Regions from separate parts of the Homo sapiens genome. Here region 2 is linked to region 1. A link means that fine-mapping ties the variant in region 1 to the expression of a gene that starts in the linked region. Tissue or cell type: whole blood. Region 1 holds a variant in brackets; the other region holds the start of a gene. All regions are shown on one strand. Distances are between the middles of the regions.

Evidence for each region. PIP is the estimated chance that this variant, and not a neighbour inherited with it, causes the effect.
Region 2: it holds the start of ZNF662, and the variant in region 1 is fine-mapped to the expression of ZNF662 in whole blood (TOPMed, PIP above 0.99).

The regions. Positions count from the first base shown.
Region 1 is chr3:43,081,682-43,084,368 of GRCh38, reverse strand. The region is part of intron 1 of POMGNT2 (protein O-linked mannose N-acetylglucosaminyltransferase 2 (beta 1,4-)); the gene reads left to right. Among named protein-coding and RNA genes, the nearest start is that of POMGNT2-AS1, 3.0 kb to the left of the region's middle. The variant G/A (reference allele first, on the strand shown) is at 1,072.
Region 2 is chr3:42,904,848-42,907,534 of GRCh38, reverse strand. ZNF662 (zinc finger protein 662) reads right to left here and starts at 1,393. Exons shown (of 5, transcript NM_207404.4): 1 at 1,367-1,393.

The DNA of each region.
Region 1 (2,687 bases):
TGGCCAATACAATTTTTTTTTTTTAATCTAGCATTGGTGTAATTGGAGTCCTAGGAGAGCAGTGTGGGGCTGAAAAAGTTTTCAAGGAAATAATGGCTATTTCCCACATTTGGGGGAAGGCATGAGCCTACAGATTCAAGAATCTGAGCAAACCCCAAAGAGGATAAACCCAAAGAAACCCACACCAAGGCACCTCAGAGTCAAACTTTTGAAAACTCAACAAAATCTTAAGAGCAGCAGGAGACAATGCATTCCCTCCAGGGAAAAACAATTCGAAGGGTAGCAGTTCCTCATCAGCAGTCACAGAGGCCAGAGGAGGTGTCACAGCATCATTTTTCACATACTGAAAGAAGGAAAATCTGTACCCCAAATTCTATACGCAGTGAAAATATCCTTTAGGAATGAAGCTAAAATCAGACATTTCGACATGAAGGAAAACTAAGAGAATTTGTTGCCAGGAAGTTGACCTTAAAAGAATAGTGAACTAACAGAAGTTCTTCAAAGAAGGGATATAGGAATGGAAGGAAACCTGGAACATCAGGAATGAGGGACGAACATAAAGAGTAAAAATATGGGTGAATATAATAGATGATCCTTTCCCTCTTGAGGAAATCATACTTGACAGTTGAAGCCAAAATTACTGTCTGATGTGGGTCTCATTATATGTAGAGGAAACACATAAGACAATTATAAAGGAACCTAGGTGGAGGTAAAGTTTCTACACTTATTCGAAACGTAAAATGTCAATACCAGTAGACTGTGATAAGTTACAGATTATAGTATGATGCCTAGAGCAACCACTAGAAAATCTATATCAAGGGATATACTCAAAAACACTACTGATAAATCAAAGTGGAATTCAAGTAATTCACAAGAAGGCAGGAAATAAAAGAAACAAATAATGCAGATGCCTGAGCCATACTCCAGACCTACTGAATCAGAACCTCCAGGACTGGTGCCTGGGAATATGGATTTTTATTTAGCAACTACTCCTGAGGATTCCAGTAATCAGCCAGGCTTGAGAACATCTGGAGTAGACCAGTATTTTTTAAACAGTAAGTTGCCAACCTG[G/A]TGAGTAGGTCGGAAAGTTAATTAAGATGATTATGGGCAGGTTTTTTGTTTTGTTTTGTTTCTGTTGTTGTTAATGAACTTAGAATACAGTGTACTAGAAAAAAAAAGCTAGAATGTATGATACTTGGTCACGGTAATTTTCATTTCCTGAAGTTTGGAGGTGGGGAGTATATGATATATTCATATGTGTGGGCCCAACCTTTGGATAAGAGTAGGCCAGAAGAGATCTCATGCCTCCAGGAATGACCTTCAACTAAGTAATGCCCAACAGGAGTTGATAGACATGTATCCCAGCTTCCATACTATATCCAGCATATGATCATGGGAGGAAGGCTACACATGGCATTAACTGCTCATTAATGTACCCTGTATGTGTTGGCTTTGGTCCCTTCTCTGTTCTCACTTTCCCATTCCCCTACACGTGTTTCATGGGATAATTTCTCAAACTGTTTTGATTCAAATCCTTGCCCCTGACTCTACTTCTTAGGGAACCTAGCTAAAGACACCTTCTCTTTCTAGGCAAGATGCACTTGGATTCTTTTCATTGCAGGGAGGCAGGAATTGCATCAGGACCTAGCCACAAGGGAATAAAGGAGCAGCTACTCCCTCCCGGTGCAGTGCCCTGCAGGTGTCAGCTGTTACCTGTGCTGCTCCTGTGTCACAAAGGATGAGCTTCTTCAACTGTCTGAATAATCCTGGGTCCCAGAGCAGGCATGATACCCTTCACAATATCGCAAGAAGAGGGAGTAAATGCTTACCCCTAGCCAGGCCTCTCTGTCAGTGTGTGTATATGGGAGAGGGCATTTAAAACCCTATTGGTTTTTTTTGCCTCAGTACACAAAACATTTTTCAATGATGATACCCAGATACAATTATCTTACCACTGAGGGGACAAGTTTCTACCCTCCTCCTAAGGGATTCTGAAAGCCAGCAGGCATGATTTCTAAAGGAGCTTTAAGCAGGAGCAAAGCTTAGCTGACCATACGTGTGTGTGTCTCTCAAAGGCGGCATACTGGGGTCTTGGTGTGCAACCTGGGAACAGTGTTCACAGATCTCCAATGCCAGTTGTTCTCATTTAAGGAAAAGTCATTACCCAGAGTCCAGGAATGTCAGGCCCCTGCAAGGGATTTTCCTATGGCCTGTCTTTCCTATGGCCTCTCTTTGTTAGCTTTTGCTGCAGCAGTGCTTCATCACAAACAGCCCCAGAATTTCAGGGATGTTTAATCAGCTGTTGCTCAGCCCTGATGTCTATGTGTTGGCTGATCTTGGCTGCGTTTGGCTGATCGCACTGCTGCTCTTGGCTGGGCCCACTCAGTCATGAGGGATCAGCTGAACTAGAACAGGGCATGGCCGGAGCAGTTCTGCTTCATGCGTATCTCGCTCCTCTTGGGGCCAGCAAGTTAGCCTGAATACATTCTTCTTATGGCAGTGTCATAAAGAGGGCAAGGCCAGCCCAAACACTTTCCAAACCTTTGATTATGTTCTGTCTGCTGACATCTCACTGGCCAAAGCAAGTTAAATGGCTAAGCCCAAAGTCGGGTGTGGGGATGCACTTTCCAACATGGAGGCGATGGGGAGGGAGAGAATATTTTAAACAATGGTCTAATCTACCACGC
Region 2 (2,687 bases), 180 kb after region 1:
AACTGAGACAGAACCCAGGCCTGTTTGACTCTGGCTCTTGCCTGTTATGCCACACTGCCTTCCGTCCCCATTCCTGCCATCCCTGCTGCCCCTGTATAGGACTCTTCCTCCTTTGTCCTCCCCAGTCACTGCCACCAGCCACAGAGGCAGCTAGGGCTCCTCAGAACATTCAGGTTGCTCTGAACACTGTACTCAACAGGGCAGATCCTCGTTGTGACTTTACTCCCTGCACCCCCACCACCCGCAACACTCTCACAAAGATCCCACCTCACTTGCTTACCCACGTCCCAATCTCCATGTCCCCATTTTCTATATCTCTAGGAGTCTCAGCTCCTGCACCTTCTTTCTCTCATCCTCTTAAGAAACAAATACTGCTGACCTCCAGCCGTTGGGACTTCCCGTAATTCTCAGCCACTGCCTCCTTCAGGGTCTCAGTCTCCACACTGTGGAGGAGCCCATTCTGGTCCACTGCACTTCAGTCCTTGCGCACTAGAAAGTCTCCACAGCTATTTATCCAGCACTCCAGGGCTCCAAGGCTTTGGCTGGCTCAACTTTGTCTGCCTAATAGAGTCCACATTCCTCTGCACTACAGACAATTCCATTCACTACTCACAGACCCAGCTTTCCTGGCCAGGATCATCAGCCACCACCACTCTCATCTCCGATCCTCTCACCATTGCATTGGGAAACCAAACTCTTTCCTCACCCTGTTCTGTGTCCTTGCACCTGCGGCTACTCTTGCCTGAATATCCAGTTCTTCCTTCCTGCTCCTGCATTGCAAATTCCTTTTCAACCTAATACCCAGCTCAAACATAACCAGCTCTGTAAAGGCAGCTCTGAAATTCTGGCCATTCATCGCCCCCGACAGCACTCTGTGCGCTCTGCCCCAGCAGTCGGCTCAACCCCGTGCCGCTGCACGTCTGCTCTCCTTGAGGCTCAGGTCCAGGGGTGTCGACTCCGCTGTGCTGCCTGTCCCTCGAGGCCCCTCACTCTGGGTTGTACCCCCATTTCCCAGCCGCCGCACCACCCCGTCTCCGGGCCTAGAACCCAGGGCAGGGCCAAGACTGCTTCCAGGCTCCGGCCCCGCACTCACCCGGCGCGCCCGGGGCAGCGCGGGCTGTCCCGGGAGCAGCTCGAGGACAAGGCCGAGGCGTGTCCCGCTCGCCAGCGCCACGGCCGCCATAGCCCAGGTCGCCCTCTGGGAAAGCGAGGGCGCGCCAGACCGGACCAGAGGCTGTTGGGGTCGCGGAAGAGCGCTCTGCACCTGGGCAGGCCTGACACGGCTACCCTGCGCCCTGCAGCCACCGGAGTAAGACCCCGACTCCACTCCCTGCCCGCCCCACGCCCGACTCCCCGTGCTCCACACCCGCCAGGCCCCAGCATCCGGGAGGCCGGGGCTCGGGCCGCTCCGGTTGCTCTAGGACGGCGGAGGGCGCCGCATCTCTGTGGTCCTCCTTTCTCGCTCGGGGAGGGAGGGGAGAGCGGTCCGGTTCTCCTGGAGACACGGACGATCCCAGGGACCGCTACCGGGGTAGGGGTGCAGGCGGCTGGGGAGGAATCCTTCCCCTGCGCTCTAGGCCACCCCTTCCTCTCCAGCTCGCTGCACCCTAGGTGGACAGATATTTGCTGATAGGAGGTAGCGGGTACTTCACTAGACTGCACCTGCTCTTTTATCTCTCCTTTTACCAGTTTTTGCATTCCCAGAGCAGACCTGTATTTTATGTCTTTTAACATTCTCATCTTTGTGCCTCTAACATGCGCCCGATGTCTAGCACCTCCTGGGGAGTTATTTCTTTAACTGCCAAGGAATATTTGTAGAATTGTCCACGAAAAGTCAAACTGTAAAATATTTGAAGGGATTTATCCTGAGCCAAATATGAGTGACCATGGCCCGTGCCACAGCCCCAGGAGATCCTGAGAACATGTGCCCAACGTGGTCGGGCTACAACTTGGTTTTACACATTTTAGGAAGACATAAGACATCAATTAATACATGTAAGATGTACGTTGGTTCGGTATGGAAAGGTGGGACAACTGGAAGAGGAGGCTTTCAGGACATAGGTGGATTCAAAGATTTTCTGAGTGGCAATTGGTTGAAAGAGTTAAGTTATTGTATAAAGACTTAGAATCAATAGAAAGGGATGTCTCAGTTAAGATAAGGGCTTGTGGAGACCAAAGTTTTATCATGCAGATGGAGCCTGTAGCAGGCTTCAGAGAATAGACTGCAAATGTTTCTCATCATTATCACACTACCGGATAGTCTGTGAGACTTAAAGAGGCTGTTCTATCAGTCTTAAGGTCTGTGTTGATGTTAATGCTGGTCAGCTGGTCCTGAATTTCAAAAGGTAGGGGAGCATAATGAGCCATGTCCAACTCCTCCTTCCCATTATGGCCTGAACCAGTTTTTCACGTTAACTTTGGAATGCCCTTAGCCAAGAGGAGAGATCCATTCATATGGTCAGAGGGCTTTGAATTTTATTTTTGGCTTACGGAATAAAAGAATGAATAAATGTTGAACCAGTTTTTCAGTTGAAGAAAGTAAGGCCCAAAGAGAGAAAATGGCTTACCTAACATTATGCAACATGCCAGGAAATTAAATTTTTTAAGAAGTGTGAAAATAAAGATTATTCAAATGAGAACAAAGACTATTATTCAGAGCTTGCTATATATGACAAGAGAGTCAGCCC